6 linked regions of the Homo sapiens genome follow. The protein of the gene in region 6 purifies or fractionates together with the protein of the main gene of each other region. This does not show direct contact. Each region holds a gene or a part of one and is shown on either strand. Other genes may lie near its edges. The genes, in order: CASC3, LONP1, TNKS, SERPINA1, ALB and UPF3A.

Region 1 (3,500 bases), on a different chromosome or scaffold from region 6:
TGGCGCAGTCTCTGCTCACTGCAAGCTCTGCCTCCCTGGTTCAAACGATTTTCCTGCCTCAGCCTCCCGAGCAGCTGGGATTACAGGTGCCTACCACCAAGTGCGGCTAATTCTTATATTTCTAGTAGAGATGGGGTTTTGCCATGCTGGCCAGGTTGGTCTCACACTCCTGACCGCAGGTGATCTGCCTGCATTGGCCTCCCAAAATGTGATTACAGGCGTGAGCCACTGTGCCAGGCCAAAATAGGATCTTTATTTTCTAGAAATATGGGTAAGAATATTGATTTGTTTGCTTTTCAGTTCTATGTTGTACTAAAAATTTATTGATAAATGTATTCCTAAAGAGTAGAAAATTGAAATGCAGCCAGGCACGGTGGCTCACGCCTATAAACCCAGCACTTTGGGCGGCCAAGGCAGGCAGATCACGAAATCAGGAGTTCAAGACCAGCCTGGCCAACATGGTGAAACCTGGTCTCTACTAAACATACAAAAATTAGCCAGGCGCGGTAGTGGGCGCCTATAATCCCAGCTATTTAGGAGGCTGAGGCAGGAGAATTGCTTGACCCCTGGAGGCAGAGGTTACAGTGAGCTGAGATTGTGCCACTGTATTCCAGCCTGGGTGACAGAGACTTTGTTTTGGGGTTGGGGGCAGGGGTGGGAATTAAAATGCACCGTTCAGATCTTATATGCATCGCTGACAGGGAAACTTTTTTCAGGGTGAAGAAGGTGAATACAGTGAAGAGGAAAACTCCAAAGTGGAGCTGAAATCAGAAGCTAATGATGCTGTTAATTCTTCAACAAAAGAAGAGAAGGGAGAAGAAAAGCCTGACACCAAAAGCACTGTGACTGGAGAGAGGCAAAGTGGGGACGGACAGGTTAGTACATTCCACAGTCCTCCATTTTAGAGGCTGGAATAGAGATTCTTGAGGCTTGGAAGAGTAAGGATCCCTTTATCTGTCCTCTAGGAGAGCACAGAGCCTGTGGAGAACAAAGTGGGTAAAAAGGGCCCTAAGCATTTGGATGATGATGAAGATCGGAAGAATCCAGCATACATACCTCGGAAAGGGCTCTTCTTTGAGCATGATCTTCGAGGGCAAACTCAGGAGGAGGAAGTCAGGTAAAAGCCACTTGCTGCTGCTGCTGTCTAACATGTATTTTACACATGTAGGCCAGGTACTTCGATTTGCCTGTATTTCATTTATTACAGCATTTTAAGATAAGTATTATGATTATCCTTATCGTACAAATGAGGAAAGTAGGCTTAGAATATTTGGTAACTCTTGGTGAGGCAGCTAAGATACAGACCTAGGACAGTTTGTTTCCAGAACTCATCTTCTCTTAATTATTATACTTTTGCTTTTCTTAGTCTGAGGTGTAAGGCGTCTGAGAAGTGAAATACTTGCATAGGTTGCCTTTTAGGAGAAAGGAGATGTTTCAAAGGTACTGAATGGCATGAAATGAAGTCTTTTTCTCATTTCTGTGTCTGTTATATTTGAGCCCAGCAGGCCCTGAGGTTCTGTGATTCACGCTTGCTTTGGGGAGGCCTGTTTTTTATAATCTCTTTGGGATGATGAGGAGACTACGTAAAGTTCCTATTGTCCCCCTGCCTCCCTGACCCATTTTGTTCAAGAACATCTCTACTTGGAGAATTCTGCTGACCCAAGACACTTTTCCTTCATTTTATCCAGACCCAAGGGGCGTCAGCGAAAGCTATGGAAGGATGAGGGTCGCTGGGAGCATGACAAGTTCCGGGAAGATGAGCAGGCCCCAAAGTCCCGACAGGAGCTCATTGCTCTTTATGGTTATGACATTCGCTCAGCTCATAATCCTGATGACATCAAACCTCGAAGAATCCGGAAACCCCGGTGAGGACATTTTAGAACATAAGACCAGGCTGGGTATGGTGGCTTACGGTGGCTTACACCTGGAATCCCGGCACTTTGGGAGGCTGAGGCAGGAGGATTGCTTGAGGCCAGGAGTTCAAGACCAGCCTGGGGAACATAGTGAGACCCTGTCTCCAAAAAAAAAAAGAAAAAAAGGAAAAAAAAAATAGAGTGTAGACTCTTGATATCTTTTAGAAAGAATTCTCTTTGCTTTTCTTTTTATTTATTTATTTAAGACAGAGTCTCGCTGTGTTGCCTAGGCTGGAGTGCAATGGCATGTTCTCGGCTCACTGCAACCTCCACCTCTTGGGTTGAAGTGATTCTCCTGCTTCAGCCTCCTGAGTAGCCAGGATTACAGGCGCGTACTATCGCGATCGGCTAATTTTTGTATTTTTAGTAGAAATGAGGTTTCGCTATGTTGGCCAGGCTGGTCTTGAACTCCTGGCCTCAAGTGATCTGCCCGTCTCGATCTCCCAAAGTGCTGGGATTACAGGCCTGAGCCACCGCGCGTAGCCTCCTTTTGTTAATTTCCTAACAGTTTCTTCATTCCATTTTTTGTAGATATGGGAGTCCTCCACAAAGAGATCCAAACTGGAACGGTGAGCGGCTAAACAAGTCTCATCGCCACCAGGGTCTTGGGGGCACCCTACCACCAAGGACATTTATTAACAGGAATGCTGCAGGTACCGGCCGTATGTCTGCACCCAGGAATTATTCTCGATCTGGGGGCTTCAAGGAAGGTCGTGCTGGTTTTAGGCCTGTGGAAGCTGGTGGGCAGCATGGTGGCCGGTCTGGTGAGACTGTTAAGCATGAGATTAGTTACCGGTCACGGCGCCTAGAGCAGACTTCTGTGAGGGATCCATCTCCAGAAGCAGATGCTCCAGTGCTTGGCAGTCCTGAGAAGGAAGAGGCAGCCTCAGAGCCACCAGCTGCTGCTCCTGATGCTGCACCACCACCCCCTGATAGGCCCATTGAGAAGAAATCCTATTCCCGGGCAAGAAGAACTCGAACCAAAGTTGGAGATGCAGTCAAGCTTGCAGAGGAGGTGCCCCCTCCTCCTGAAGGACTGATTCCAGCACCTCCAGTCCCAGAAACCACCCCAACTCCACCTACTAAGACTGGGACCTGGGAAGCTCCGGTGGATTCTAGTACAAGTGGACTTGAGCAAGATGTGGCACAACTAAATATAGCAGAACAGAATTGGAGTCCGGGGCAGCCTTCTTTCCTGCAACCACGGGAACTTCGAGGTAGGTATCATAGGATTGGTGGCTAGCTTTTTCCCCTTTGCATCATCAGGTTTAGGGGCATGGGACTTCTGTCTCAGGAAGGTGGTGTCTGACAAATGTCTACTTCTTTTTTTTTGAGACAGAGTCTCACTCTTTTGCCCAGGCTGGAGTGCAGTGGCGCGATTTTGGCTCACTGCAACCTTCGCCTCCCAGGTTCAAGTGATTCTCCTGCCTCAGCCTCCTGAGTAGCTGGGGTTACAGGCGCACACCACCACGCCCAGCTAATTTTTTTTTTTGTATTTTTATTTATTTATTTGTTTTGAGATGGAGTCTTGCTCTGTTGCCTAAGCTAGATGCAGTGGCACGATCTCGGCTCACTGTAATGTCCACC
Region 2 (3,500 bases), on a different chromosome or scaffold from region 6:
CTCCAGCCTGGGCAACAGAGTGAGACTCCATCTCAAAAAAAAAAAAAAAAAAAAATTTACAAACTGCCCTGTCCAAAGCACCCAGTGCAGGAAGGAGGAGATGGCCGGAGGTCCACTGCTGACTCATCAGGAGAGCCAAGACGGCACTGGCTTCTGCCCAGGGCTGAGTGAGCAGAACCACAGAGGGGACGAGGCTTAGAAAATGGGACAAGGCCTGACCCAGGGCAGGTGGGGAAATGGAGGCCAGGTCCCCTGCCGGGAGAGTGACGCTGAAGGTTGGGAGGGCAACTCCATATTGGTCCCCAAGTTGGGAGCCGTGCAGCAGTGAGCAGCGGCCACTATGGGCCAGGAGCAAGTCAGTGAGGGCTGCAAGAGCACACGGCAGGATTGGGGAAGAGGATGAAGAGGAGGACGGCTTCCGAGGAAGGGCCAGGCGGCCCCACGAGCAGACACCGTCAGGGCGCACTGCCACCCAACGGGCATACGAGACGCACCGGGACAGGCCAGCTGGGCCACACGGATGCTGGAGTTTAGAGACACATGAAGTCACTGTGGAAGTGACACAGGCAGTGACACTTTGCGGAGAGCATTCTGGGTGGGAGAGGTAGCTGGCAGCCTGCTGCAGGCATCTTGGTGACACGCAGGTACTGAGGGCTTGTCCCCCGTGACTTCCCAGGACCTGAGGACAGAACCCGCCTTACAGACCCCCTCAGCTCCTGGGGGAAGGAGCTATCTGCTTCTGCAGGACAAGGCCCGGTCTGAGCAGGTACTTCCACCAGCCCAAGGGCAGCTGAGGCACTCGCTGGGAGACAGAAGAACCCCGAAAACATCTACGTTCTCCCCCCACAGGAGGCGGCGGCACAGGCCTCTCACATGGCAGCAGGGAACTGCAGATGGGGCTGAGTGAAGGTCCCCGAGACAGGAGAGCATTCTGGGTGACCCAGGGGGCCCAGGTTCCTCACCAGGTCCTCACGACAGGCGGTGGGAGGTGAGAGACTGACTGGAAGAGGCTGCGCTGTGGCTGTGAAGGAGGAAGGGGCCCCGAGCCGAGGGATGCGGGCGCCTCCAGATACTGGGAAAGGCAGGAAACGGATTCTCCTCTGGAGCCTCTGGGAGGGACGGGCCCGGCCCACAGCGGGATCTCAGGGCTCGGCATTGTGTAAGGCACTAAGTTGTGGCACCGTCGGAGCAGCCATGGGAGCTCACAGGCCACTCACCGAAATCGGGGCGTGCTGGGAGGGGAAGCCACAGCCTTCGCGCGCAACCAGTGCCTCTCAGGGCCCTGGGGGAGAGACTCCGGCGACCGTGACATTCAAATCTGAGGCGGGGTCCTGGGCCAGCAGCCAGGAAAGAAACTCATGCCTTCCCTCTAAGCGCTGTCCTACGGCCTGCCCAGCCCTGCCCCGGGGACTTCTGCCTAGAAGCTGCCCTGGCGTGACAACTGGTTCCTGGGCTGAAAACAGAGCATGCTGCATGGGAAGTGGCCAGGTGGGTTCTGTCCTGGCTGGACATGGGCATGGCTGAAAGGATCTCAGAGGTACCTGAGGCCCTCAAACCTGGGGCGGCCACCCTGACTCATGGCATGCTCAGGACAGTGGCCCCCGGGCAAGGCCAGTGCTGCGGGAAGGCATGGTCACTTCCTGGCTGACTCTCGAAGGGGCAACAGAAGCCAGGGGTAGCCTTGCAAAGACAGCCATGGGGACTCCTGGTCCTGGCGAGAAGGCCTGGCTTAGGCCAGGCGTGGTGGCTCATGCCTGTAATCCCAGCACTTTGGGAGGGCAAGGTGGGCGGATCCCTTGAGGTCAGGAGTTTGAGACCAACCTGGCCAACATGGCAAAACCCCATCTCTACTAAAAATACTAAAAATTAGCTGGGTGTGGTGGCACATGCCTGTAATCCCAGCTACTCAGGAAGTTGAGGCAGTAGAATCGTTTCAACCTGGGAGGTGGAGGTTGCAGTGAACCAACATTGCACCACTGTACTCCAGCCTGGACAACAGAGCAAGACTCTGTCTTAAAAAAAAAAAAAAGCCAGGCATGGTGGCTCGCGCCTGTAATCCTAGCACTTTGGCAGGTCAAGGCAGCCGGATCATTTGAGGTCAGGAGTTCGAGACCAGCCTGAACAACATGGTGAAACCCCATGTCTCCTAAAAATACAAAAAATTAACCAGGCGTGGTGGTGCATGCCTATAGTCCCAGATACTTGGGGGACTGAAGCAGGAGAATTGCTTGAACCCGCAAAGCGGAAGTTGCAGTGAGCCAAGATTGTGCCACTGCACTCCAGTCTGGACAACTGAGCGAGACTCCATTTCAAAAAAAAAAAAAAAAAAAAGCAGCCCTGGCTTAGAGCCAGGCGTCCCTGGGCTCAAATCCGTGGCACCACCTGCCAATTCACAGGCCCTGGCCACCAGCTCAACAGCCCCGAGCCTCGATTTCCTTGTAGAATGGAGATGGTGATGATGTGTCCTGCCCAGAACAGGGCTGATACTCGCTGGATGCCTCCCAGCCCGCACCTGCCACACCAAGAAGGTGCCACGGGGCTCCCCGCTGGGTCCCCTGGCCTGCCTAAGATGGGGGCTGAGGAGGGGTCACCTGAGGGCTGGGCCGCCCCGGGCCTGGCACTCACTTGAACTCCGAGGAGTGGTTGTCCAGCAGGCCCAGCTTGCTCAGCTCCTCGTCCACAACATCCATGACGTGCTTGGGGACCACGAGCTCCTTCAGGCGCTCCCGGAACTTCTCCTCGATGGCATCCTTGTCGTCCTTCTCCAGGCCCAGCTCCTTCTTGATGATCTTTAGCTGCTCCTGCAGCAGGTACTTACGGTGGGTCTGCTTGATCTTCTCCTCCACCTGTGGGGTGAGGTGCTGCCATCAGGCCCTGGCTCCGGGAAGCTGGGTGGGTGGGTGCGTCCCCAGACGAAGGGGGACCCTCTGCTCCCCCAGGACTCAGAGAGAAAAGAAACGAAACCCAGAGCACGAAGCCTTTGGTTCCTTCCATCTTCTTTTGTTTTTGAGACAGGGTCTACCTGTGTTACCCAGGCTGGAGTGCAAAGGCACCATCATAGCTCACCGTAGCCTCCACCTCCTGGGCTCAAGCGATCCTCCTGCCTTAGCCTCCTGAGTAACTGGGACCACAGGCACCTGCCACACCTGGCTCTAATTTTAAAATTTTTTGTAGAGATGGGGCCAGGCGCGGTGGCTCACGCCTGTAATCCTAGCACTTTGGGAGGCTGAAGCGGGCGGATCACTTGAGGCCAGGAGTTCAAGACCAGCCTGGCCAACATGGTGAAACCCTGTCTCTACTAAAATACAAAAATTAGCCGGTGTGGTATTGCACGCCTGTAATCCCAGCTACTCGGGAGGCTGAGGTGGGAGGATCACTTGAGCCCTGGAGGTGGAGGCTGTAGTGAGCTGAGATTGCGCCATTGCACTCCAGCCTAGGTGGCCGACTGAGACCCTGTCTTAAAGTAAAAAATTCTGAAAAATGCTACGACCGTGAGGTGA
Region 3 (3,500 bases), on a different chromosome or scaffold from region 6:
ATGAAAATGGAGATACAGAGGAGTGAATTGTTAAATAAAAACAGGTATACACAATGGTGCTTTACCAGATGATCTCATTCTTAACTCTTTGTATCCTTTTCTTTTTTTTCAGCATGTTGACATAGCGGCTTTATTGATAAAATACAACACGTGTGTAAATGCAACAGATAAGTGGGCGTTTACTCCCCTCCATGAAGCAGCCCAGAAAGGAAGGACGCAGCTGTGCGCCCTCCTCCTAGCGCATGGTGCAGACCCCACCATGAAGAACCAGGAAGGCCAGACGCCTCTGGATCTGGCAACAGTAAGTCCTCATTTCAGATACTGATTATTGTTCCTTCTACTTTCACAGATGACATCAGATTCTCGGGTTCACCAGCTTACTTTTAGTCGTGTTTATTTCACTTAGAACAGAGATCTTCTGAAAATTTTTGAAGTTCACACTTTTTCTATGAAAATATAATTTAAAACTCTTAAGACAAACTAAACAGTAAGTTAATTTAATTTTTTGCCATTCTTAGCCTGCTGGGAAAACATGGATCTTAAGAAAACATGTTTTTAGAGTGTACCCTCAAAGAATTATATTTAGTAAAATATCTTGTACCTTCTATATTTGGCATGTTATTGTAGAGCAACTAATGTTCATGATAATTTACCTAAGTCTGTGAGATAGTCAAAGAAAAATTAACTCTGGGCAGTATTATTTAACTGCAAAGTTAAGCACTGCATCATCTTCCGTGAACTTTCTGAAAACCAGGGAGTTACTGTATAGTCACAGTAATTTCTAATTTTTAAGCCAGAAATGTTTTTTCAAGTTATGTTCTGTTTCATTTATTGATTGCTGCGTAACAAACTGTTTCAAAACACCCAGTGGCTTAAAATAATAATGACTTATTATTTCTTATGATTCTGTATGTTGGCTAGGAGATTCTTCTGGTCTTACCTGGGGTCACTTGTGCAACTGCATATAGCTGGTGGCTGGGGCAGAAACATAAAGACGGCTTCATTCATATGCCTGGGGCCTTGACAGATACAACTAGAAGGCAGGGGCCTCTCTAGTCCCATGTGGCATCTCATCATTAAGTGGTCTTGTTAGAATTTCTTCACAGAATAATTGTATCTCAAGAGGGAGAAAGCAGAGGCTGTCATTGTTCTTTAAGGCTAAGCCTGGAACTGACATGCTGTCACTTCTGCCACATTCTGTTGTGCAAAGCAAGTCATGAAGTCAGCTCAGGTTCAAGGGATAGGAAAACAGATTCCACCTTCTTTGAAAGGAGAAGCAAAAATTTCGTGGCCATCTTTAATCAGCCACAGTCTTCCCTGTGAATACAAATTAAATCTATTTTTCCCACATTCAAATTACACTCACCTGCCACGTGCTCCCCCCACCAACAGGGGGCAGATAGTCATCACTGGGTCCTTAGCAATTCTAAAATTCAGCCAGACACATGTTATCAGGGCCATCTACTCTGGAGTTAGGGAATGATCCCTGATTAGGGCCCAGTTCTGCTCCCAGGGAGTGGTTCACTGTGGCTGTCTTTTTTTTTCCTTTTTTTTCTTTTCTTTTTTTTTTTTTTCCCCCTTAAGACACAGTCTGGCTATGTCACCCAAGCCAGAGTGCAGTGGCGTGATCATGGCTCACCACAACCCCAACCTCTTAGATTCAAGCCATCCTCGTATCTCAATCTCCTGAGTAGCTGGGACTACAGGCACATGCCACTATGCCTGGCTATTTTTTTTGTTTTTACTTTTTGTAGAGACAGGGTCTTGCTATGTTGCCCAGGTTAGTCTTGAACTTCTGGGCTCCTCCCTCAGCCTCCTTCCTCAGCCTCCCAAAGTGCTGGGATTACAGGTGTGAACCACTGTACATAGCCTCTGTAGCTCTTGGCCATGCCCTCTGAATTATCCTTCTCTTTTCATAAGAAATGGATCATATTTACAGCCAAGTGGCTTTCTCAACCTGTTCCCTGCTCCTAGAAATTTTCGGGACCCTGAGCCTTTTATCATTTTGATCTACCTGTCCCTTTTAGTCCAAACTAGTACAACTCTTCCTTTGTAAACTTTTGGATTTCCCATCAAATTACACACCACTCCATCAGCCAAAAGCTCCACCCACAAATCTTTTCAAGACAGGTCCCTCTCTAACATGGAATCCAAGTAAAGGTGCAGTGGGACAATGCCCATAAGATCCTTTGAAGCTCTTTCATCTAGCCAAGGGAATTCACAAGGTACCACCTTAGAGGTTTTTTAAAGATTTTGAGGTAATATATCTGTACCTCTAGTTGATTTTTATTCTGAGGCCATGTTTTCCTGTCAGCACGCTGGATTTGACCTTTGGCCTGAGGCTGTGCCTTACTTGAAGAAACTTTTGCTGATGGAGAGGCTGGGAATGGTGAATAATTTTGTTTTCTAAGCTAGCAAATGTTAGGTGAATACATTTCCTTAAAGAGAACTGGACAGTTCCTTTCTCTCTTCCTGTACCTTATCATGGGCAGATAAACACACCAGTCCAGTTGACAAGGCAGAATTTGTTCTGGAAATTTCCTTAGCCAAATTTACAAATTTATTTAGGTTTACGTTCTACCTTCCGTAAGACCTCCTGTGGCAGCGTTGCCAAACTTTCTGCTACACAGCATTAGTCCCCTTTCTCTCGCCTTCAGTAGCACTTGCCTATCTATCTTCCATTCACAGCCTCCCTCAGCAATAACCAGGCCACCCTTCACGCCTCCAACCAAAGCCACATGTCCACCAGCACCCCACTTCCAGGTACTGGTGTGCATTTCATTTCTCTATTGCTGCCCACTAAGCCACCCCCAAACCCACTGAGGGTTTAACGTGACAATTTATTATTTCTCACACGTCTGGGAGTTGACTGGGCTCAGCTGGGTGGTTCTGGTTTTGCAGTTACCTGCACCTGGGAACTCAGCAGAGGCTGGAGCTTCCAAGATGGCCTTTCATCCCGCAGGGCTCTCCCTGCATAGGATCTCACCACTCAGTAGTCTAGCCCAAACTTCTGTACAACATGGCAGATGGCTTCTAAGAGAGTAAAAGTAGACACTGCCAATCCACTTAAAGCCTGGCTCAAAAGCCTCAGAATGTCACTTCTTCTCCATTCTATTGGTCAAGACAACTCACAGGGCAAACCACATTCGGCGGGTAGGGGGCAGAAATTCAAGGGGAGGCATACATGACGGGAGGAAGGAATTGATGGGTGGCTGTCTTTGGAGACTATCTCCCGCATACTCGAAAAGCAGTTGCATCTAATACTTAAAAACTGAAAAGTTTATGAATAAATGAGCTAAATTAAAGTGTCATCCCTTTGAAATTTCACCAGATGTTAATTGTACATGAAATTATTAAGTGTGAAGTAAATAACCAGATTATAGCTGTTTAAACGTAAACAAAATATAGTAAACACAGAAATTTTTTCTAAAGAAGGGTGACAGTTAACACTGAAAGTGCTTTTTTTTAAATGAAAGAAGAAATATCTTTAAAAATTACAT
Region 4 (4,046 bases), on a different chromosome or scaffold from region 6:
GTAAGTGGGTTCCCTGGTCTGAATGTGTGTGCTGGAGGATCCTGTGGGTCACTCGCCTGGTAGAGCCCCAAGGTGGAGGCATAAATGGGACTGGTGAATGACAGAAGGGGCAAAAATGCACTCATCCATTCACTCTGCAAGTATCTACGGCACGTACGCCAGCTCCCAAGCAGGTTTGCGGGTTGCACAGCGGGCGATGCAATCTGATTTAGGCTTTTAAAGGGATTGCAATCAAGTGGGGCCCCACTAGCCTCAACCCTGTACCTCCCCTCCCCTCCACCCCCAGCAGTCTCCAAAGGCCTCCAACAACCCCAGAGTGGGGGCCATGTATCCAAAGAAACTCCAAGCTGTATACGGATCACACTGGTTTTCCAGGAGCAAAAACAGAAACAGGCCTGAGGCTGGTCAAAATTGAACCTCCTCCTGCTCTGAGCAGCCTGGGGGGCAGACTAAGCAGAGGGCTGTGCAGACCCACATAAAGAGCCTACTGTGTGCCAGGCACTTCACCCGAGGCACTTCACAAGCATGCTTGGGAATGAAACTTCCAACTCTTTGGGATGCAGGTGAAACAGTTCCTGGTTCAGAGAGGTGAAGCGGCCTGCCTGAGGCAGCACAGCTCTTCTTTACAGATGTGCTTCCCCACCTCTACCCTGTCTCACGGCCCCCCATGCCAGCCTGACGGTTGTGTCTGCCTCAGTCATGCTCCATTTTTCCATCGGGACCATCAAGAGGGTGTTTGTGTCTAAGGCTGACTGGGTAACTTTGGATGAGCGGTCTCTCCGCTCTGAGCCTGTTTCCTCATCTGTCAAATGGGCTCTAACCCACTCTGATCTCCCAGGGCGGCAGTAAGTCTTCAGCATCAGGCATTTTGGGGTGACTCAGTAAATGGTAGATCTTGCTACCAGTGGAACAGCCACTAAGGATTCTGCAGTGAGAGCAGAGGGCCAGCTAAGTGGTACTCTCCCAGAGACTGTCTGACTCACGCCACCCCCTCCACCTTGGACACAGGACGCTGTGGTTTCTGAGCCAGGTACAATGACTCCTTTCGGTAAGTGCAGTGGAAGCTGTACACTGCCCAGGCAAAGCGTCCGGGCAGCGTAGGCGGGCGACTCAGATCCCAGCCAGTGGACTTAGCCCCTGTTTGCTCCTCCGATAACTGGGGTGACCTTGGTTAATATTCACCAGCAGCCTCCCCCGTTGCCCCTCTGGATCCACTGCTTAAATACGGACGAGGACAGGGCCCTGTCTCCTCAGCTTCAGGCACCACCACTGACCTGGGACAGTGAATCGTAAGTATGCCTTTCACTGCGAGAGGTTCTGGAGAGGCTTCTGAGCTCCCCATGGCCCAGGCAGGCAGCAGGTCTGGGGCAGGAGGGGGGTTGTGGAGTGGGTATCCGCCTGCTGAGGTGCAGGGCAGATGGAGAGGCTGCAGCTGAGCTCCTATTTTCATAATAACAGCAGCCATGAGGGTTGTGTCCTGTTTCCCAGTCCTGCCCGGTCCCCCCTCGGTACCTCCTGGTGGATACACTGGTTCCTGTAAGCAGAAGTGGATGAGGGTGTCTAGGTCTGCAGTCCTGGCACCCCAGGATGGGGGACACCAGCCAAGATACAGCAACAGCAACAAAGCGCAGCCATTTCTTTCTGTTTGCACAGCTCCTCTGTCTGTCGGGGGCTCCTGTCTGTTGTCTCCTATAAGCCTCACCACCTCTCCTACTGCTTGGGCATGCATCTTTCTCCCCTTCTATAGATGAGGAGGTTAAGGTCCAGAGAGGGGTGGGGAGGAACGCCGGCTCACATTCTCCATCCCCTCCAGATATGACCAGGAACAGACCTGTGCCAGGCCTCAGCCTTACATCAAAATGGGCCTCCCCATGCACCGTGGACCTCTGGGCCCTCCTGTCCCAGTGGAGGACAGGAAGCTGTGAGGGGCACTGTCACCCAGGGCTCAAGCTGGCATTCCTGAATAATCGCTCTGCACCAGGCCACGGCTAAGCTCAGTGCGTGATTAAGCCTCATAACCCTCCAAGGCAGTTACTAGTGTGATTCCCATTTTACAGATGAGGAAGATGGGGACAGAGAGGTGAATAACTGGCCCCAAATCACACACCATCCATAATTCGGGCTCAGGCACCTGGCTCCAGTCCCCAAACTCTTGAACCTGGCCCTAGTGTCACTGTTTCTCTTGGGTCTCAGGCGCTGGATGGGGAACAGGAAACCTGGGCTGGACTTGAGGCCTCTCTGATGCTCGGTGACTTCAGACAGTTGCTCAACCTCTCTGTTCTCTTGGGCAAAACATGATAACCTTTGACTTCTGTCCCCTCCCCTCACCCCACCCGACCTTGATCTCTGAAGTGTTGGAAGGATTTAATTTTTCCTGCACTGAGTTTTGGAGACAGGTCAAAAAGATGACCAAGGCCAAGGTGGCCAGTTTCCTATAGAACGCCTCTAAAAGACCTGCAGCAATAGCAGCAAGAACTGGTATTCTCGAGAACTTGCTGCGCAGCAGGCACTTCTTGGCATTTTATGTGTATTTAATTTCACAATAGCTCTATGACAAAGTCCACCTTTCTCATCTCCAGGAAACTGAGGTTCAGAGAGGTTAAGTAACTTGTCCAAGGTCACACAGCTAATAGCAAGTTGACGTGGAGCAATCTGGCCTCAGAGCCTTTAATTTTAGCCACAGACTGATGCTCCCCTCTTCATTTAGCCAGGCTGCCTCTGAAGTTTTCTGATTCAAGACTTCTGGCTTCAGCTTTGTACACAGAGATGATTCAATGTCAGGTTTTGGAGTGAAATCTGTTTAATCCCAGACAAAACATTTAGGATTACATCTCAGTTTTGTAAGCAAGTAGCTCTGTGATTTTTAGTGAGTTATTTAATGCTCTTTGGGGCTCAATTTTTCTATCTATAAAATAGGGCTAATAATTTGCACCTTATAGGGTAAGCTTTGAGGACAGATTAGATGATACGGTGCCTGTAAAACACCAGGTGTTAGTAAGTGTGGCAATGATGGTGACGCTGAGGCTGATGTTTGCTTAGCATAGGGTTAGGCAGCTGGCAGGCAGTAAACAGTTGGATAATTTAATGGAAAATTTGCCAAACTCAGATGCTGTTCACTGCTGAGCAGGAGCCCCTTCCTGCTGAAATGGTCCTGGGGAGTGCAGCAGGCTCTCCGGGAAGAAATCTACCATCTCTCGGGCAGGAGCTCAACCTGTGTGCAGGTACAGGGAGGGCTTCCTCACCTGGTGCCCACTCATGCATTACGTCAGTTATTCCTCATCCCTGTCCAAAGGATTCTTTTCTCCATTGTACAGCTATGAAGCTAGTGCTCAAAGAAGTGAAGTCATTTACCCCAGGCCCCCTGCCAGTAAGTGACAGGGCCTGGTCACACTTGGGTTTATTTATTGCCCAGTTCAACAGGTTGTTTGACCATAGGCGAGATTCTCTTCCCTGCACCCTGCCGGGTTGCTCTTGGTCCCTTATTTTATGCTCCCGGGTAGAAATGGTGTGAGATTAGGCAGGGAGTGGCTCGCTTCCCTGTCCCTGGCCCCGCAAAGAGTGCTCCCACCTGCCCCGATCCCAGAAATGTCACCATGAAGCCTTCATTCTTTTGGTTTAAAGCTTGGCCTCAGTGTCCGTACACCATGGGGTACTTGGCCAGATGGCGACTTTCTCCTCTCCAGTCGCCCTCCCAGGCACTAGCTTTTAGGAGTGCAGGGTGCTGCCTCTGATAGAAGGGCCAGGAGAGAGCAGGTTTTGGAGTCCTGATGTTATAAGGAACAGCTTGGGAGGCATAATGAACCCAACATGATGCTTGAGACCAATGTCACAGCCCAATTCTGACATTCATCATCTGAGATCTGAGGACACAGCTGTCTCAGTTCATGATCTGAGTGCTGGGAAAGCCAAGACTTGTTCCAGCTTTGTCACTGACTTGCTGTATAGCCTCAACAAGGCCCTGACCCTCTCTGGGCTTCAAACTCTTCACTGTGAAAGGAGGAAACCAGAGTAGGTGATGTGACACCAGGAAAGATGGATGGGTGTGG
Region 5 (3,500 bases), on a different chromosome or scaffold from region 6:
ATGTGTGTGTGCATGCACGTGTGTGTATGTGTGATATTGGCAGTCAAGGCCCCGAGGATGATAATTTTTTTTTTTTTTTTGAGACGGAGTCTCGCTTTGTTGTCCAGGCTGGAGTGCAGTGGTGCCATCTCGGCTCACTGCAACCTCCGCCTCCCAGGTTCAAGCCATTCTCCTGCCTCAGCCTCCCAAGTAGCTGGGACTACAGGTGCATGCCACCATGCCTGGCTAATTTTTTGTATTTTTAGTAGAAAATTTTCAGCTTCACCTCTTTTGAATTTCTGCTCTCCTGCCTGTTCTTTAGCTATCCGTGGTCCTGAACCAGTTATGTGTGTTGCATGAGAAAACGCCAGTAAGTGACAGAGTCACCAAATGCTGCACAGAATCCTTGGTGAACAGGCGACCATGCTTTTCAGCTCTGGAAGTCGATGAAACATACGTTCCCAAAGAGTTTAATGCTGAAACATTCACCTTCCATGCAGATATATGCACACTTTCTGAGAAGGAGAGACAAATCAAGAAACAAACGTGAGGAGTATTTCATTACTGCATGTGTTTGTAGTCTTGATAGCAAGAACTGTCAATTCAAGCTAGCAACTTTTTCCTGAAGTAGTGATTATATTTCTTAGAGGAAAGTATTGGAGTGTTGCCCTTATTATGCTGATAAGAGTACCCAGAATAAAATGAATAACTTTTTAAAGACAAAATCCTCTGTTATAATATTGCTAAAATTATTCAGAGTAATATTGTGGATTAAAGCCACAATAGAATAACATGTTAGGCCATATTCAGTAGAAAAAGATGAACAATTAACTGATAAATTTGTGCACATGGCAAATTAGTTAATGGGAACCATAGGAGAATTTATTTCTAGATGTAAATAATTATTTTAAGTTTGCCCTATGGTGGCCCCACACATGAGACAAACCCCCAAGATGTGACTTTTGAGAATGAGACTTGGATAAAAAACATGTAGAAATGCAAGCCCTGAAGCTCAACTCCCTATTGCTATCACAGGGGTTATAATTGCATAAAATTTAGCTATAGAAAGTTGCTGTCATCTCTTGTGGGCTGTAATCATCGTCTAGGCTTAAGAGTAATATTGCAAAACCTGTCATGCCCACACAAATCTCTCCCTGGCATTGTTGTCTTTGCAGATGTCAGTGAAAGAGAACCAGCAGCTCCCATGAGTTTGGATAGCCTTATTTTCTATAGCCTCCCCACTATTAGCTTTGAAGGGAGCAAAGTTTAAGAACCAAATATAAAGTTTCTCATCTTTATAGATGAGAAAAATTTTAAATAAAGTCCAAGATAATTAAATTTTTAAGGATCATTTTTAGCTCTTTAATAGCAATAAAACTCAATATGACATAATATGGCACTTCCAAAATCTGAATAATATATAATTGCAATGACATACTTCTTTTCAGAGATTTACTGAAAAGAAATTTGTTGACACTACATAACGTGATGAGTGGTTTATACTGATTGTTTCAGTTGGTCTTCCCACCAACTCCATGAAAGTGGATTTTATTATCCTCATCATGCAGATGAGAATATTGAGACTTATAGCGGTATGCCTGAGCCCCAAAGTACTCAGAGTTGCCTGGCTCCAAGATTTATAATCTTAAATGATGGGACTACCATCCTTACTCTCTCCATTTTTCTATACGTGAGTAATGTTTTTTCTGTTTTTTTTTTTTCTTTTTCCATTCAAACTCAGTGCACTTGTTGAGCTCGTGAAACACAAGCCCAAGGCAACAAAAGAGCAACTGAAAGCTGTTATGGATGATTTCGCAGCTTTTGTAGAGAAGTGCTGCAAGGCTGACGATAAGGAGACCTGCTTTGCCGAGGAGGTACTACAGTTCTCTTCATTTTAATATGTCCAGTATTCATTTTTGCATGTTTGGTTAGGCTAGGGCTTAGGGATTTATATATCAAAGGAGGCTTTGTACATGTGGGACAGGGATCTTATTTTACAAACAATTGTCTTACAAAATGAATAAAACAGCACTTTGTTTTTATCTCCTGCTCTATTGTGCCATACTGTTAAATGTTTATAATGCCTGTTCTGTTTCCAAATTTGTGATGCTTATGAATATTAATAGGAATATTTGTAAGGCCTGAAATATTTTGATCATGAAATCAAAACATTAATTTATTTAAACATTTACTTGAAATGTGGTGGTTTGTGATTTAGTTGATTTTATAGGCTAGTGGGAGAATTTACATTCAAATGTCTAAATCACTTAAAATTGCCCTTTATGGCCTGACAGTAACTTTTTTTTATTCATTTGGGGACAACTATGTCCGTGAGCTTCCGTCCAGAGATTATAGTAGTAAATTGTAATTAAAGGATATGATGCACGTGAAATCACTTTGCAATCATCAATAGCTTCATAAATGTTAATTTTGTATCCTAATAGTAATGCTAATATTTTCCTAACATCTGTCATGTCTTTGTGTTCAGGGTAAAAAACTTGTTGCTGCAAGTCAAGCTGCCTTAGGCTTATAACATCACATTTAAAAGCATCTCAGGTAACTATATTTTGAATTTTTTAAAAAAGTAACTATAATAGTTATTATTAAAATAGCAAAGATTGACCATTTCCAAGAGCCATATAGACCAGCACCGACCACTATTCTAAACTATTTATGTATGTAAATATTAGCTTTTAAAATTCTCAAAATAGTTGCTGAGTTGGGAACCACTATTATTTCTATTTTGTAGATGAGAAAATGAAGATAAACATCAAAGCATAGATTAAGTAATTTTCCAAAGGGTCAAAATTCAAAATTGAAACCAAAGTTTCAGTGTTGCCCATTGTCCTGTTCTGACTTATATGATGCGGTACACAGAGCCATCCAAGTAAGTGATGGCTCAGCAGTGGAATACTCTGGGAATTAGGCTGAACCACATGAAAGAGTGCTTTATAGGGCAAAAACAGTTGAATATCAGTGATTTCACATGGTTCAACCTAATAGTTCAACTCATCCTTTCCATTGGAGAATATGATGGATCTACCTTCTGTGAACTTTATAGTGAAGAATCTGCTATTACATTTCCAATTTGTCAACATGCTGAGCTTTAATAGGACTTATCTTCTTATGACAACATTTATTGGTGTGTCCCCTTGCCTAGCCCAACAGAAGAATTCAGCAGCCGTAAGTCTAGGACAGGCTTAAATTGTTTTCACTGGTGTAAATTGCAGAAAGATGATCTAAGTAATTTGGCATTTATTTTAATAGGTTTGAAAAACACATGCCATTTTACAAATAAGACTTATATTTGTCCTTTTGTTTTTCAGCCTACCATGAGAATAAGAGAAAGAAAATGAAGATCAAAAGCTTATTCATCTGTTTTTCTTTTTCGTTGGTGTAAAGCCAACACCCTGTCTAAAAAACATAAATTTCTTTAATCATTTTGCCTCTTTTCTCTGTGCTTCAATTAATAAAAAATGGAAAGAATCTAATAGAGTGGTACAGCACTGTTATTTTTCAAA
Region 6 (3,500 bases):
AGCCGTAATAAGGCTTTTGATCACTAAAGTAAACAAAATATGCTGAGGCTGCATGCTGCCTGGGCACTGACTCTGGGCCTCAGCATGGGGCCAAGTGGTAAGCAGGTTGCACAAGGCCTCTGCCTACCATCGGGATGACAGGTTGGAAGCAGGAGCAGGAATAGTCCAACCAGGGCACCTCAGTGTGTAATCACTGCCACTGATGTGACAAAGTGGAATATGGGAGGGAAAGAGGTTGGGAGACTCCCTCCAAGATAGTGGTGGAGCTGGAGCTGAGACTGGCTGCGGGAGGGAAAGAGGTCAGGAGATGAGCTGAGCCTGGCCGTGCTGAGCAGTGGAGGAAGGAAGCGCCAGGGGCAGGGCCGGCTGCTGTCGCTTTTCACTGCAGGCGCAGAGTGCAGGCTTGTGGGGTTGGCACACATGGGTGAGGGCAGCGTGGTTGGAGGTTCAGGGCACTGCAAGACATTTAGATTCATTCCAGGGCAACTGGAAGCCACTGGGGGAGTAGCATGGTCTGATTATTTGTCCCCGTCACTTTGGTGGTGTCACATGGGATAGACTGTGGATGCCAAGAGATGAGCGTGTGTTTTGGAGGTGGGCTGGACAGGACCGACAGACGGATAGGGTGTGGGAGGTAAGGGGACAGGAAGAATTAAGACTCCAGTGCTTGGCTTGAACAGATGGGTGGATTGTGGCACCATTATACACAAGGGAACATGAGGGTAGGACAGTATTGGGGGCAAAGTCGAGATTTCACTTAAGAACTTGATAAATTGAAGAAGAGCTAGAAGCAGCAAATTAGACGTTATTACAGGCCTCATCTCCCTGCCCCTCCCATTTCCATCTCACTTTGTTTTAAATGTCCCCTTGCAAAGGATCGGTCACTTTAGGGCTGTTTTGAGACATACCTTTTTGGGGCAGACACGTGGCTCCTGCCGGGGTGGGGAGAGGGGGGCATGTCCTGGCACCTCCCCGAGAGTCTGCTGCACAGCCAATGCTTCACAAAAGTTGGCTGAATGAATGAATGAATGTGGCTTAGAACCCACCATCCCTGATGGGAGCGATTAATTCATTCCAGGACTTGGCTGTAGAGTCTTCCTTGTTTCTGTGATTGCTGTTTCTATGTATGAAAAATTGAAACTTGGCCGGGTGCGGTGGCTCACACCTGTAATCCCAGCATTTTAGGAGGCTGAGGCGGGCAGATCATGAGGTCAAGAGATTGAGACCTTTCTGGCCAACATGGTGAAACCCCGTTTTTACTAAAAATACAAAAATTAGCTGGGCGTGGTAGCATGCGCCTGTAGTCCCAGCTACTTGGGAGGCTGAGGCAGGAGAATCGCTTGAACTCGGCAGGCGGAGGTTACAGTGAGCCAAGACCACGCCACTGCACTCCAGCCTGGCGACAAAGTAAGACTCCATCTCAAAAAAAAAAAAAAAAAAAATTTTAGGCAATTCATGGCAGATTACCTTTTTCTTTTCTAAGCTTTTGGCCTCCAGTGGATTCTTCTGCACAGGTCTGAGAAGCAAGTGTTAAATGGAAATACTAATAAGCTGTTTCTGGCAAGGACTCTGGAGTTGTTGAGTTAGTCTGGTGCATCGGCCTTTAGCATCGGCCTTTAGAGCAGACAGGCCTGGGTTCAGCTCTGAGACTTCTGTTTACTTGTGTTCTGTTGCATGGTTGTGCGTATTCTGTCTGATAAATAACATACTTTTATGATGTGTAGAACACTTTCTTATTCAGGGTCTAACGTACTTTGCCCGTGATCCCTGTGGGTGATAGGGCAGACATTTTATAGGAAGAGGAAGGTGGGCAAGCGGAGTCTGGGGTCAGCCTCCCCACACATCCAGGTGGTCTCGCCCGGCTCCTGGCTGACAAGTTCAGGCTTTCCACAGAGCAGAGCAGAACCCTGGCTGATTTGAGATAATTTGCCCATTACAAAGAGCTGACCATTTACCTGAGCCAGTGTGCTGTACTCACCCTGAGCCAGAGTTCATGGTCAGCCCAGGGACCCCTGGGGGAGTGTTCTCTGTGGCAACTGTGTCTGCCACGAAATGTGGCATTTGTACCTGCATCAGCTCTTCCCTACAACCACTGTGCCTGGGGCAGGGCTCCTGGGACAATCGGCTCTTCCCTACAACCACAGACTGTCCCTGGGGAAGGGCTTCTGGGACAGGTGCCATTTCATCTATGATGTCAGGGTGTCAGGGGTTCTCAGTTCCAAGTGATGGATCCCTGGCCAGGGCTTCTCCTATGATTCCTGATTCATTCCTGGTCCTCAGAATTCCAGAGATGATGTGTCAGTTTTCAGGTACATCCAGGGATTCTTCCCAGCCCTGTTTAGTCTGAGATCTTACAGACCCACAGAGTAGACCCCGTCTTCCCCCTTCCCATTTGTGTCCTTGTGTTGGTGGGATGTGGGGCCTGTCCATGTCAGCGCAAGTCCCTCTGAGGTGGGGCCTGTGGGGCCTCTAGCTTGCCTGGGCACCCACATCCAGGTCAGATCTGAGAGGTCGGGCATGAAAGCGAAGGACCAAGATAGAGTCTGTAGAAATGTTCATTCCCTAGTAGTTGGTGCCTTTTCTGCAATCAGCAGCGCCATATGGAGTCATTTTCTTTTTCTTTTCTTTTTTTTCTTTTTTTTTTTTTTTTGAGGCAGAGTTTCGCTGTTGTTGCCCAGGCTGGAGTGCAGTGGCGCAATCTCGGCTCACTGCAACCTCCTCCTCCCGTGTTCAAGTAGTTTTCCTGCCTCAGCCTCCCGAGTAGCTGGGATTATAGGCGCGTGCCATCACGCCCGGCTAATTTTGTATTTTTTCAGTAGAGACGGGGTTTCCTTAGGTTGGTCAGGCTGGTCTCGAATTCCCAATCTAAGGTGATCTGCCCGCCTTGGCCTCCCAAAGTGCTGAGATTACATGTGTGAGCCACCACGCCCGGCCCATGTGGAGTCATTTTCTAAACTACAATCCAGAGTTGTATGTCTTATCATTGGGATTTTATGGAGTATATATTGTAAGACATTACAAGAATCCATGTTATTTTAAAACTGTTGCTTGGAGAACGGAAAACGAAAAAGTTCTCAGAATATGCGATGTATCAAAATAAATATATGTTATTTAATGATTTAAGGCACCTACAAAAATATCATCTTGGAATATTTTAAGCCTCCCTTAAGAATCAGGAATTAGATGTCTACTATGTATGAAATTGTTGATACTTTCAAATTACTTGACCTGACAGTAATGGAATAAAAACTCCCCTGGAGACAGTGTGTAAATTTAAAAAGTAATGATATGGTTCCCGTATTTATTTTAAAGATTACATTCAAAACAAGTATTTAAAATACATCTTTCTTTAGGAGTTAAATACAATATTACAATTTTTGTGTTTTAGCTAGAAGAACCACACCTCTTTTGGAATATATTAAAAATAGAAAATTAGAAAAGCAGGTAGGTCTGGCCTTTACCTGATGAACACCCTCCCTGCTTCTGCCATTCTCATCCAG

The links.
Region 1: the proteins of UPF3A (region 6) and CASC3 purify together in Homo sapiens (co-immunoprecipitation; 3 studies listed by BioGRID and IntAct, with this or other methods). This does not show direct contact.
Region 2: the proteins of UPF3A (region 6) and LONP1 purify together in Homo sapiens (affinity purification with mass spectrometry; one large-scale study listed by BioGRID and IntAct). This does not show direct contact.
Region 3: the proteins of UPF3A (region 6) and TNKS purify together in Homo sapiens (affinity purification with mass spectrometry; one large-scale study listed by BioGRID and IntAct). This does not show direct contact.
Region 4: the proteins of UPF3A (region 6) and SERPINA1 purify together in Homo sapiens (affinity purification with mass spectrometry; one large-scale study listed by BioGRID and IntAct). This does not show direct contact.
Region 5: the proteins of UPF3A (region 6) and ALB purify together in Homo sapiens (affinity purification with mass spectrometry; 2 studies listed by BioGRID and IntAct, with this or other methods). This does not show direct contact.

Annotation. Positions count from the first base shown.
Region 1 is NC_000017.11:40,161,037-40,164,536, forward strand, and holds part of CASC3 (protein CASC3), read left to right. Parts: intron 1-716; coding exon 717-875; intron 876-896; exon of another isoform or gene 897-965; coding exon 966-1,117; intron 1,118-1,688; coding exon 1,689-1,865; intron 1,866-2,444; coding exon 2,445-3,130; intron 3,131-3,500. UniProt on the Homo sapiens protein: Required for pre-mRNA splicing as component of the spliceosome. Core component of the splicing-dependent multiprotein exon junction complex (EJC) deposited at splice junctions on mRNAs.
Region 2 is NC_000019.10:5,703,147-5,706,646, forward strand, and holds part of LONP1 (lon protease homolog, mitochondrial isoform 1 precursor), read right to left. Parts: intron 2,847-3,500; coding exon 2,626-2,846; intron 1,073-2,625; coding exon of another isoform or gene 970-1,072; exon of another isoform or gene 585-969; intron 1-584. UniProt on the Homo sapiens protein: ATP-dependent serine protease that mediates the selective degradation of misfolded, unassembled or oxidatively damaged polypeptides as well as certain short-lived regulatory proteins in the mitochondrial matrix.
Region 3 is NC_000008.11:9,747,912-9,751,411, forward strand, and holds part of TNKS (poly [ADP-ribose] polymerase tankyrase-1), read left to right. Parts: intron 1-112; coding exon 113-301; intron 302-3,500.
Region 4 is NC_000014.9:94,385,803-94,389,848, reverse strand, and holds the start of SERPINA1 (alpha-1-antitrypsin precursor), read left to right. Parts: upstream 1-1,246; 5' UTR 1,247-1,289; intron 1,290-4,046.
Region 5 is NC_000004.12:73,417,787-73,421,286, forward strand, and holds part of ALB (albumin preproprotein), read left to right. Parts: intron 1-301; coding exon 302-525; intron 526-1,720; coding exon 1,721-1,853; intron 1,854-2,467; coding exon 2,468-2,512; 3' UTR 2,513-2,535; intron 2,536-3,305; 3' UTR 3,306-3,500. UniProt on the Homo sapiens protein: Binds water, Ca(2+), Na(+), K(+), fatty acids, hormones, bilirubin and drugs. Its main function is the regulation of the colloidal osmotic pressure of blood. Major zinc transporter in plasma, typically binds about 80% of all plasma zinc.
Region 6 is NC_000013.11:114,288,101-114,291,600, forward strand, and holds part of UPF3A (regulator of nonsense transcripts 3A), read left to right. Parts: intron 1-3,388; coding exon 3,389-3,444; intron 3,445-3,500. UniProt on the Homo sapiens protein: Involved in nonsense-mediated decay (NMD) of mRNAs containing premature stop codons by associating with the nuclear exon junction complex (EJC) and serving as link between the EJC core and NMD machinery.